3 separate regions of the Homo sapiens genome follow, and regions 1 and 3 are each reported to be linked to region 2. The links are microRNA targets in miRTarBase. Many come from high-throughput screens and were not tested one by one. Region 2 holds a microRNA gene; each other region holds the end of a gene's coding sequence. Distances are from middle to middle.

The links. Region 2 holds the annotated microRNA hsa-miR-3130-5p (UACCCAGUCUCCGGUGCAGCC, at 1,650-1,670, shown strand). A microRNA usually pairs through its seed, bases 2 to 8, with sites in the 3' UTR of a target mRNA and lowers its output. Matches are read on the target gene's strand: a 7mer-m8 pairs with bases 2 to 8, a 7mer-A1 pairs with bases 2 to 7 and ends in A, and an 8mer does both.
Region 1: miRTarBase lists POLQ as a target of hsa-miR-3130-5p. Seed matches in the 3' UTR shown: 7mer-A1 at 1,210-1,216.
Region 3: miRTarBase lists ABCA12 as a target of hsa-miR-3130-5p. Seed matches in the 3' UTR shown: 7mer-A1 at 1,793-1,799.

What each region holds. Positions count from the first base shown.
Region 1 is chr3:121,428,970-121,433,178 of GRCh38, reverse strand. It overlaps POLQ (DNA polymerase theta), which reads left to right. Exons shown (of 30, transcript NM_199420.4): 29 at 146-261; 30 at 762-1,748. The coding sequence ends at 875. Among named protein-coding and RNA genes, the nearest start is that of POLQ, 110 kb to the left of the region's middle. RefSeq lists an enhancer at 871-920.
Region 2 is chr2:206,780,737-206,784,945 of GRCh38, reverse strand. MIR3130-1 (microRNA 3130-1) reads left to right here and starts at 1,638; the gene lies at 1,638-1,712. All of the region lies in intron 7 of FASTKD2 (FAST kinase domains 2), which reads right to left. It overlaps MIR3130-2 (microRNA 3130-2), which reads right to left and starts at 1,712; the gene lies at 1,638-1,712.
Region 3 is chr2:214,929,467-214,933,675 of GRCh38, reverse strand. It overlaps ABCA12 (ATP binding cassette subfamily A member 12), which reads left to right. Exons shown (of 53, transcript NM_173076.3): 53 at 935-2,134. The coding sequence ends at 1,042. All of the region lies in intron 2 of SNHG31 (small nucleolar RNA host gene 31), which reads right to left. Among named protein-coding and RNA genes, the nearest start is that of SNORA70I, 85 kb to the right of the region's middle.

The DNA.
Region 1 (4,209 bases), not on the chromosome of region 2:
CAAGTAGTTATTTTCCTGATAGTTCTTATTCTTGTGTGTTTTAATCTTCTCATTAAAATTCCTCAGAGTTACTCAGAATCTCTAAAAACATTCTCCTATGACTTAGCGACATGCTGATCAGTTTTGCTCCTTTTTCATGAAGTAGGATTGTCACGAAAGAGAAAACTGCAAGGGATGTTCTGCCCAATCAGAGGAGGCTTCTTCATCCTTCAACTCCATGATGAACTCCTATATGAAGTGGCAGAAGAAGATGTTGTTCAGGTATTTTTGCAATGCTTGTGTCCATTCCATAGGAAGACAAGACACTGTATTGTCAGGCCGACAGCTTTGTTTCCTGTGCATGAGGATTTTGGAACTCTACCCTAGCCCTGGGATGGCTGTATAAATATTGAGTCCTTACAGGTAGAAAAGGAGCTAAGAGTGTTCCGTTTTGTACTAGTTCTTAATAAGTGAAGAATTGCCAATGCAAGATGTTTTTGTCTTGGAGGAATTAAACAAAAATTTGGAGTCTTTCCCTTAGGGTTTCTAAGCTCCAAGCATTCTAGCAAAAACTTTCAGAAATTCCTGCTCATCAGTGAAGAAGAGTATGAGATGTCTTTTTATTTATTCATTTATTTATTTTATTTTTTATTTTTTCTGATTTAGCATTTTAAGCACCATTGGGTGAAGAGCTCCAGTCTGGTTTATAACTTTCTCAGGGGATGGTTTGGGAAACATTCTTTGACTGGGCAGTTTGTTAACTACATTTTTTTTTTCCTTAGGTAGCTCAGATTGTCAAGAATGAAATGGAAAGTGCTGTAAAACTGTCTGTGAAATTGAAAGTGAAAGTGAAAATAGGCGCCAGCTGGGGAGAGCTAAAGGACTTTGATGTGTAACTGTGCTGTTGATGAAGTCCTCCCAGGGAAGCCTGTGCAGATGCAGTCACCTGGAAAGAACAGAGATTACCCTTTCACCTACCTCAGCAAAACAAACTTTCAAGTCTTGATAGACTTAGCCTAGTAATTTTATAGTGAGAGTTTCAAACTATATATCAGTGTCTATAGCATCAAAAACTTCTGGGGGCGTGGGGGAAGTAGAATACCAAGTATAATAGTTACATTCACTTTCAAAGAGCATCTATGAATTTGCCTTTTGTAACTTACTGTGGCTTTAAACATATTCAGAACAGATGCTTGAAATATGCACTTAGCACTTTGGTTCCACATCTGTCTGGGTAAACCATGAAGAAAATGAAGCTGCTGCCTCAATCGACCCAGACAGCAGCCATAGGCAGATAAAGATTTGGTTTCACCCTGGTGGTGGTAGGCATCGTGTGTGACTTTTTTTCCTCTAATATCAATTTTACAGTACGGAAATAGTATTTTAAAATAGTATTGGCTAATAAATTATGAATTCTATAAAGTAGTAAGACTTGGTATGGTTGGAGTGTAGGAATGAATATTCATGAAATGTTTCTTATTGCTTTTCCTTCCCTAATTCATACAATGAATGTATTTGGAATACTTACATATTATAAAATAAACTATACCTCTTCAAGAGGTATCCTGTTCTGTAAGATCAGATGTTTTTATTGCAGGTCAATATAATACTGCCAGAGACAGAAAATACCCCCTTATCAGTCCCTTAGTGCCTCTTTCTGTTTGTGGCATGGTGAGAAAACCCATGCTGAAAAGATTGTACTTTGTGATCCCAATCAGAGGGATGGAGCTAATCTTTTTGCTGTTGAAATAAAATGAATTTATGAGAAACTTTATATCAACAATTGTTTTGTTAAAAATTATAGTTGGTCTAAGAGTGTCCCTTATTTAGTTACTCCATAGCTTGTTCATAGGAAACACTGATTATATTCTTAATCAGTTACCAGAAGAGCTCTTTTATGTTTATTAATCAGAATAATGAAAAAAGATAGTTGCTTTATAAAATGTAATGCATTATCAGTAGTTGGGTATTAATGCATAAGAGACTTAGACATAGTTTTTTTGGGGTGGCAGGGTGAGAAAGGCAGAGATGGCAGCAGTAAGAGGGAAGAATATCATTATTTCTTTTTCCATATTTACCTGTACTATGTTTCTCAGAAGCTGAAGTGCTGTCAGTATTCTGGTAGGCTTGAAAGATCTGGCACAAGAGAAAGCTCAATCTGTTTACCTGTGAGTGTTCTTCAAACATGAGGGCAAGCAAAAGTCCCTTCTGCCTCATTCTCTGCAGCCATGGCCCAGCATGTGTAGTCACATGCATTTTCTCATTCTGTTTGACCTGTCAGCTGGACCTGAAACAGGCCATCCCCATTTTGCATGATTCAGATGTGCACAAATCCCAGTTACTATGGTTTACTTAATAACATGAGTCTCCCCTGCAACACAATTCAAATTTCAGTTACCAGTGGATATTAACTGTGAGTAACTGCATGAAATTCAAACTTCACTGATAGTTCTTCAAACCACAACCACTGTGTAAATAAGAAATGCACATTGTGTTATGCAGAATAATGCCCCCCACCCCAAAGTTCACATCCTAATTCCTAAAATCTGTGAACTATTATATTACATGGCAAAAGGGACCTTGTTGATGTGATTAAGTTAGAGATCTTGAGGTGGGGGATTATCCTGGATTATCTGAATGGTTCCATTGTAATCACCAGGGTCTTTATAAGAGGGAAGCAGATGGTCAGAGTCAGGGAAGATGTGACAACAGAAACAGAGAAAGATTTGAAGATGCTACACTGCTGGCTTTAAAGTTGGAAGAAGGGGCCATGAGCCAAGGAATGCAGGAACCCTCAAAAAATTGGAAAAGGTAAGGAAATGGATTCTCTCCTAGAACCTTTTGAAGGGATGTAGCCCCGCCAACACCTTGACTCTAGCCCAGTTAAGACCATTTTGGACCTCTGTCCTTTAGAACTGCAAGACAATTATTTGAATTGTTTTGAGCTAGTAAGTTTGTGGAATTGGTAGCAGTAACAGGATATTCATACATGCATCATGATGAGGACCAGTTACATCACTTCTTCCAAAGGCTGTCTGTGATTGGCTACTTCACATCTGTTATTCACTTTACTTGCAGATGGCAAAATGTAGTTGTGTTGATTGCTTGTCTCCCAGTGGTAAATCCACATTATACAAAAATGGATAATCAAAAGTAGAAGTTGGCTAATAAAGATCAAAGTGTACCAGAGAAGTAAAAAATAACACTGGAAGTGAAATTCAAATTGAACATAAATGGAATTACAGAAGAACTACCTGCCTGGGAATGCTGACACTACTGCTGTTTGAGATACAGTAGATAGGCAACCTGAGAAACAGTAAAGGCACAATTTACATAAATGAGGAAAATGGTTGTGACAAAAGGATAAAGATGTCCCAGAGGAAGCGATGCCAACAAAAAACTTCATTAATTTTTAATCTATAACTTTAATTCCATCAAAGTCTCATCAGGATTTTATATTTTTTAGATAGATAGTATCTTAAAACTCACCTGAAGAAAAACCAGTACCTGGCCGGGCGTGGTGGCTCACGCCTGTAATCCCAGCACGTTGGGAGGCCGAGGCAGGTGCATCACGAGGTCAAGAGATCGAGACTATCCTGGCCAACATGGCAAAACCCCCTCTCTACTAAAAATACAAAAAATTAGCCGGGTGTGGTGGCGGGTGCCTGTAATCTCAGCTACTTGGGAGGCTGAGGCAGGAGAATCACTTGAAACCAGGAGGTGGAGGTTGAAGTGAGCCGAGATTGCGCCATTGCACTCCAGCCTGGACAAAAAGAGCAAAACTCTGTCTCTCACACACACACACACACACACACAAAATACCAGTACCTATCAAACTTGAGAAATAACAAAGATTTGTATCAGATATTAGGATGTATTACAAAGACATAATAGTTTCAAATTATATATAGGGGATAGAAATAGGTAAGAGTATTAAAACAGACTAAAGAATTTAAGAAACAGACTTATATGAGAAATGATTAAAATGTCATTTCAAATTAGTGGTGAAAGATGGGCTGTTCATAAACGCGATGTAGTGATAAGAGTATCCATTGGTAAAAATATCAAGTTGGATCTCTATCTCAAATGCTCACAAAATACTCCAGATGGATTAAAAGCCTAAATATTTAAAAGAAGACTATGAAAGTAAATTAAAAAAATATGAGAATGTTTATGACTTTATAGAAATAAAAGCCTGCTTTAAAACAAAGTTCTAAAATCATAAAGGTA
Region 2 (4,209 bases):
TAATATGCTAGATCACTCGAATTTTCATGCTATATTTAACTGCCAATTTACATATCTACCTTACCCATTACACAGAATCCTCTGGCAAGAAGGACTGTCTTATTCATCTTTCTCCTAAGTGTCCAGGTGCTTGGCAAATGCTGACTAAACGAACAAATAAACTTTGATGAGGAAGACAGGAGGACGAGCTTGTCATTGGAAAACGATGAGTCAAGAAAAATAGCTGACTTCCAGAATTACTGAACTTGAGACACTTCTGGGATGTGCAGTGACCATATGCAACCCACAGAGACTCAGGTCTGGAGTTAAGGAGCACACTAATGACCACAGATGCAAATGTGGGATTATCCATAAGGTGGTAAATACAGATCAAGAAGAGAAGAAACCAAAGGACCAAAACAACAGAGCTTAAACGTTACATATTTGTTCCTTGGGTTCAAAGCCCAGCAAGATACTCTGGATTTAACACCCTCTCCCCGATGGGCCATCATAAATGAAATAATGATTAATGTATAGCATGTGGGTATACAATAAGCCAGAATTCCTACCACTCTCCTATCTAACCATCTCTTCTAGTCAACTCTCTTCCCAAATACTTTGAGTTATTCTGCTTCCAAAACCTTTGCTACTCCAGATAAGTTGCCATCTTCCTTTCTCCTTCCTCCATAAAGCACTTACTTGGTGCCTACCATGTACTGCCTTCCTCTGGATATACAACAGAGTTGTTCTCATAAATGGTCTAGGAAGAGCAGGGAATACAAACTTCTTTTTTTATAGCCTTCAAAATACCAAATCCAGGCAATTGTACATTCATGGGCATTCAGGAAATGGTGACTAATTAATCTTGCTATATCTGCCATATTGCCCCTACTTCTCCTTTGGAGAAATGTTGAGGTGGGAGGCTTAGAATTAGGTAAGGGTTTCTCAATCTCAGCACTACTAACATCCGGGGCTGGATAATTCCTTATTGTGAGGGGCTATCTTCTGCATAGTAGGATGTTAGCGGCACCCCTGGCCTCTGTCCACTAGAGGCCAGTAGCACAGACCTCCCTCCTGTTGTGGCAACTAAAAACCATCTCCATACCTTGCCAAATGTCCCCTGGGAGGCAAAATCATCCCTGTTTGAAAACCACTAGGTTAAATGAAAGCAGAATAGACAGACAAAAAGACAACATTCATGATTCTCCTCCTGTACTAATTCTACTACTGCCATTTTATTAAATGTCCTCCCAGCCTTTGTTACCTTTGTTATCCCCCCTCTATTTTCAATGTAACAATTTTGTTGGAACAAGTTATCTCTCAGGTTGCCTGGAGTCACCTGAAAAACTCTTACCCGCCCAGTACTTACTCTCTTAATCCCTCTGGGGCTGTTTCTGGAGTTTTAATTACCACTTAGCTTGATATTATTTGTCTAGAAAGTACAAGGCATCAATGGGAGCCAGCCTCAGAAGAAAATGAAGCCAGGGGAGTAAAGGAAGATTGAATTTGGGAGATATTTTTCGACCTTTATTAAATGTCTACTCTTTGGCAGGTCCTGTACTAAGTTCAGAAAAACAGGCAGCTGGGTCGGACTCCGGAGAGCTTACCAACTGAGGAGCAGAGACAGACTTACTGACACAACAAATGATGTGACACAACTTGTCATGTCTTACCCAGTCTCCGGTGCAGCCTGTTGTCAAGGCTGCACCGGAGACTGGGTAAGACATGACAAGCACAGGGACTCTGACGGTGACAATTAGGGAAGACACAGGAAATGCAGTATGAGCTGAGTCTGTCCATTCAGTGGACAGTACAGTGGGAAGCTGCTTTTTAGTTGGCCTGACACCACTTAATTGATTAACTGCCCCTAAGGGATGGGCATTTGACTCAAACTCAGTCAATCAGATGTTCTCTTTCAGAAATCTAAATCTGGAGGGAAAACTAAAAGGAAAGCAAGCAGCTGGAGTCAAGTCATTTGATGGCAAACAGATGGCCTGTGCATCTTGCCACTGAGACCTTCACAACTGCCCTAGTTTGTTCCCCCAAGGCCTCTGTGACCTACACTCTAATTTTTTTCAAATCTAAAAATTACTATGTGCTGGGCATTGTCATAAGAACTTGACATAGATTAACTCATTTAATTCTAATAACAACCCAATGAGATTAGACATAGCTCATCTCCATTTTAATAAGTGAATAAACTGAGGCACAGATAAGTAATTTGCCAAAAGTCAAGCAGCTAACAAATGGCAATGCTGAAACTCAAACCTAAGCAAGCTAGCTCTAGAGTCCATGCTTTTAATCACTGTTTTAACAAATGACATTTTATATGCTTTTCTGATTTTTAATGAACCCTGACTGATCCAAAGAGTAAGAAAAGATGTTCTGGGTAGAAAGCAGAGGTATGAAAGAAGCTGGCACATTTGAGGAATTACTGTATTTAATAGTAGGAATGCATGGCTGTGGTTAAAATGAAAAGAATAGAAAGCAGTAGCTTGAGACCAAATGAATAGTTAAGGTCAAAACTGAACTAGAAGAAGGTCCAGTTCTCACAGCTTCTCAGAAACACTGATTTAGCAAGGACATATAGACAAAAATACCTTTATGAAAAGTCCAGAAACCAATTAAGATATTGTCGTACTCCAGACAAGAACAAAACCAAGAAGAGTTGCACTGAAACAGGCAAGAAGAACATTTTACCCAGGTCAGCCCCTCCCCAAAGCCGGCACAGCTCAGCACCAAGGAGATCACCTTGGCCTAGGACTTCTCCCTTGGAGGGAGAGAGTAGAGTGTGCAACCAACATCCGGCTTTTCACTGTGCTGCCCTAGGGGCTGGATTTCTGTCTAAACTCACGTGGAATACTAACAAAACCAGCAGGGTTCAGATGCCTGAGAGCAGTTAAGAACAAAGGAAAAGGGGTGGACAGCTTCCTGCACTCAGCACAGCTCTGAGAGATTGAGAGAAGGTACGCAACCCGAGGATTCAGCCTCAGGAGGAAATGAGAGGAGTGGAGCATGTCTTCAACATCCTAGCCTTTTGGTGAGCTGTCCAAGGAGCTGGTTTCTATCTCACCTCACAAGGAGAGCGGACGAAACCAGCATAGTTTGAATGCTCAGGAGCAGTTAAGTAGGAAAAAAAGGGGTCAGTGGCTTGCAGCAGACAGCACAACTCAAGGCTTCTCTACAGCGAAGGAGAGAAAGGAGAGGAGCATCTATGTCCCCGACTGTAGTACAGCAGTCAGACACCAGAGGGAGCAAGACATTCCCTGATACTGGAAAAAAAAAAAAAAAAAGAAATTAAAAAAAAGAAACCAGTAAATCCCTCTACTTAGAAATCCATAAACACATTCAGGCCAGGCATGGTGGCTCATGCCTGTAATCCCAGCACTTTGGGAGGCCAAGGTGGGTGGATCACCTGAGGTCAGGAGTTGTAGACCAGCCTGGCCAAAATGGTGAAACCCCGTCTCTACCAAAACTACAAAAATTAGCCAGGCGTGGTGGCAGGTGCCTGTAATCCCACCTACTTGGGAGGCTGAGACAGGAGAATCGCTTGAACCTGGGAGGCAGAGGTTGCAGTAAGCCGAGATCGTGCCACTGCACTCCAGCCTGGGCAACAAAGATCAAAACTCTGTCTCAAAAAAAAAAAAAAAAAAAAAAAAAAATCATAGAAAAAGTTTAAGAGGCCCCCAGAATCTCTGGCTAAGCTGATTAATAAGAGTCTTTCCCTGTCAAAGCCAGTCTGTAAAAACAGGGAGAGGAGACTGTTTCTTTAATTGTGCAGACACCAATGCAAAGCTACAAGGAAGAAAGAGCATCAGGGAAATGTAACACAATCAAAGTACCAAAATAAATGTCCAGTAATCAACATTAAAGAGATGAAGATCTATGAACTGCCCAACAAAGAACTAAAAATAATTGTCTTATAAGAACACAGAAAAGTAAATGAAATTAGGAAAATGATATATGAGCAAAATAAGAGTATCAACAAAGAATTGATAAACTATAGAAAGAACTAAACAGCAATTCTGGAGCTAAAGAATATAATAACTGAACTGAAAAATTGACTAGAGGGCCATACCAGCATATTTCAGCAAGCAAAAGAGAATCGGAGAATTTGAAGCAGGTCATGTGAAATTACCCAGTCCAAAAAGAAAAAAGAACAAAGAAAGAAGAAGAGTTAAGAAAGCCTAAGACACTTACAGTACACCAACAAGCAAACCAATGTGTGCA
Region 3 (4,209 bases), 8.1 Mb from region 2:
TAGATCTGTTAAATTCAGGCAATTAAAGTGGTAAATGCAGAATCCTTTCCGTTCAACGTACATCATCTGTCTTAATTACATTTGCATTTAATAACTACAGACTTATTAGGTCATCCTTTATCACTTCTGTACTGTCTTAATTTTGCACAGCTCAACCAACATGACATATAGAAAGTTTGATTATATCTGTCATTGGACTAGGTCTGAAAGTAAGGCCTTTAGGGGTCAGTATATGGTGCTGCATTTGATGTACAACTCTTCTTGTGGGGCTTTAGGCATTTTAATGGGGGCTTTAGACAATCATGACTTTCCTGAAAATGAAGACTTAGTCTTCGACTTATGACCAACTACCAGCACCATGGCAAAATACAGACTCTCGATAGTTTTTGGATGAAACTATGACTAATAGATTTAATGACTTTAAACAAAGTGAAAAGATCTGCCTGTTAAGTAATTGGCTTACTGAACACAGTGTTAACATGGGCTTTCTATACAAATTTTATCTTAATGCATTAACTCTTGAAACTAGTGAAATTTCTCTCAACATTTCTACACAACCATTCAATAAGGGCACAGGGCTGGGCTCCTTGTTTATACCTGATAGAGATATTGATGTAGGTCATATGAATGCAGAAATGTGGCTACAGATAGTCAACTATGGCTTAAGATTGACATGATTATAAATAAAATCATAGTCATAAATATGGTCATAGATATAGGTGCTGTTTTCAAGCCCCAGTTAAATTTGATTTTCTGAAAGGACTCCTAGTGCAAGCATGTATAAAACTAGGATTTGGATTTTATAGGGGCCTGCATACACATATATACACGCTTGCACTAGGAGAGAGGAAGGGGAGAGAGAGAGAATGAATTAACTTTATTTTTTCCTTTGGCTTACCAGGCATTAATGGCTTTATTTTCCCTGAAAAATCAGGTTTTCATCAACTTTGCCAAAGACCAGAAGTCCTATGAAACTGCTGATACCAGCAGCCAAGGTTCCACTATAAGTGTTGACTCACAAGATGACCAGATGGAGTCTTAACACTTCCAGCAAACTCAATCTCAGCGTGTGACCAATGGCTTCATTTTGAAGAAAAGCCACAGAAGATACACTTCCGCAAGATATCTTCATTTTAAAGTAAAGTAATATACTGTATGGAAAGTTACAACTGTGTTAGACTAACAAGTAATTATAAAAGGAAATTTTTCCTTCTAAGGTCAGTGAGTGTTGTTGCTACTGAAATGAATTCCTGTATACTCAACACTGTGAGCATGCTAATGTATATGCTGGTGATTCTTATGCAAAGGTGAAGCCACCTCAAGATGAATATCTTAATTTATTACTTTCAATAAAAAGACAGTTTAAAAGGCATGGATTTTGGTAGTTGAAATATAAGAGTGGAGAAGAAAAGTCAGATGGTTTGTGGCAGGTGCCACCGGGCAAGCAGACAACATAATTTATTTCCAGAAAACAACAGAATGAACATCATCATGAATACATGAATCGGCTGTGATGTGTGAACTGCTAAGGGCCAAATGAACGTTTGCAGAGCAGTGGGCACAATGTTTACAATGTATGTGTATGTCACTTTCGGTACCTGTGAATGCATGGGGACGTGCTGAACCCGAAAAAAAGTGCCTTTCCATAAGGACTGCAATAGAGAGGGCAATTTACCCTGGTGGTACACGGAACCTAGATTCACTCCTGCCATGCCTTGCCAATAGTAAGCTGCAGGGTGGAACAAGAAATCACTTGCTCTGGGGGGAAGGGAGGGGGGAATGGGTGTGTCAGCTGGGTAGATACAAACCCTGAAAAGAGAATCCATGTGCTACTGGCAGGCAACATTTTTTAAAGCTCTTTCAGAAACCCTCATATTTGGGGTTTCTTTTCAGGAAACATTCCTGTGGAGGGAAAACGAATATGAAGATAATTTTCAGCTAATTATCTGGGTGACCCAGAATCGTGTATATGGCTATAGGATAGACTTCTTAATAATGGCAAGTGACGTGGCCCTGGGGAAAGGTGCTTTATGTACCGTGTGTGCGTGTATGTGTGTGTATCTATACAAGTTTGTCAGCTTTGGCATGACTGTTTGTCTCGAAAACCAATAAACTCAAAGTTTAGAAAAACTCATTCATGCTGTCATTTCATTTGTTAGGGAAGAGACAGGAACCTAAAAATGGGAGTCATGTGGCCTGCAAAGTTTCACTTGATCTGGCCCCTGTTGGCCTCTCCACCCTCATCCCCATCTTTCTCTCTCTTTGGCCCTTTGGGATCTAGCCATGCTGGCCCCTTCCCACTTTTTCCAGTGCTCCACAGTCTTCCCCATCTCCAAACCTTTGCACATGCTGTTCTCCTGCTGGGAATGCTCTTCACCCCACACTTTTTACCTGGCTAACAGGCTCCAGAAATGTCATACTTTCTTAGAGAACCCAGACTGCCCGGCTTTCTCATTTTAAATCTGGTCTGCTGTTCTAATACTATATGCTTTGTTGTTCCTCCCAACCTCCTACTTTTCTGTCAGAGCATGCATCATCATTTGTAATATATCCAGACTGACTGACTTAACTACAAATATATATATATATATGTACCTTAACAGATGGTAACACAATTTCTTTCAGGATGGAAAATGTCTTTGCTGAATATAATATGTAGACACGCCTTTTGGAGTAGATAGAAGGTATAACTCTGAGAGCGTGGGTGTCTCTAGGGTCCCAAGTGACAAAATAGATAGCCGAGCTCCATGAAAGAATAAAAGGAATTTGTTTGCTGTTCATTGTCTTTGTTGTGGTTGGCTGGTTGTCTGCTTGTTTCTGAGCAATGGTAGGAAAGGAAGCAAAAGAAAAGGACACAAGGGACATGGAGAAAGGTGGAACCAGTGAGATGGCAGAAGGCTAAGTACTGAAACAGACGGAAGCCCAGTGAGAAAGAGAAGTGGTTGAATGGACGTTTAAAACTATGAGTATTCAAATACTTTTTGCATATTCACTCACTGTGCAGCCATGCTGTGGATGGTCCCTGTTACCACTGAATCTTCGTTGAAGTCAGACACGCTTACAAATGCTCTGTGTGACTGAGTGTCTTGTGGAGACTGGAATGAAGATATGTTAATTCCTTTTTTGAAAGAGGTGCAGTACAGTGACAGCTTCATCCCAGAAGCTGTCAGACCATGAGACAGGGAGATGCCAGGACATGTGTGGAGCAGAGCTTCTGACCATAGGACATGGATCAGGGACTCCAGCCAATCTCATCTACCTCTCAATGGGCAGGGAAGCCCCAGCTGGGCTCTGGACCGTGATAGTAGCACCATTATTTGAGTGATTAGTATTTCTCTGTCTCACTAGGCTTGAAACTCCATGAGGACAGAGATCTATTTTGATCTTCCTGGCTCTCCAACTGGTACCTATATACACAATAAATATTCGTGGCACTCAATAAGTAAGTATTTGTTGGTTAAATGAGTAAATAAATGAAGGAGAAACAAGAGAGGCTGGCATGGTTGATATGAAAACCAAGCAACCTGATTTTGTTTAAATTTCTGAAATACAGTGAGGTTTCCCATGAGGTAGTTTATTCTGAGGGAAGAAAAGAGAAAGATGATACATAGTCCCATATTACAGATATTACAATGAATCTACTGCGATGGAAGGATTTGGGTATCTTCTTTAGAATGAGAATGCTATGTTTTGTTTTTGCACATTTTTGGACATTTATTTTTCTTCCTCTTTTTTTCTGTTAGTATGTACTATTTAAGAGTATCATGGCACATTTTTATATGTAATTAAGGAACATCTATGAACAAATATTTGAACCCATATCCCTTTGGGTTTCTCTGCAGTAGAGGAAATGTTTAGAGAATTCCCAGTTCCCAGAACTTCCACTCTGGATAATACCTACAGAATGTGCTTGCTTTTTTGTTTTTGTTTTGTTGTTCTTGTTGTTGTTGTTCTTTTTTTTTTTTTTTAGACAAGGTCTTGCTCTGTTACCCAGGCTGGAGTGCAGTGGAGAGATCACAGCTCACTGCAGCCTCGATCTCCCAGGCTCGAGTGATCCTCCCACCTCATCCCCCTGAGTAGCTGGGACTACAGGTGTGCACCTCCAAGGCTGGCTAATTATTTTTTATTTTTAGTAGAGATGAGGTCTCGCTATGTTGCCCAGGCTGGTCTTGAACTCCTGAGTTCAAGCAATCCTCCATCCATGGTCTC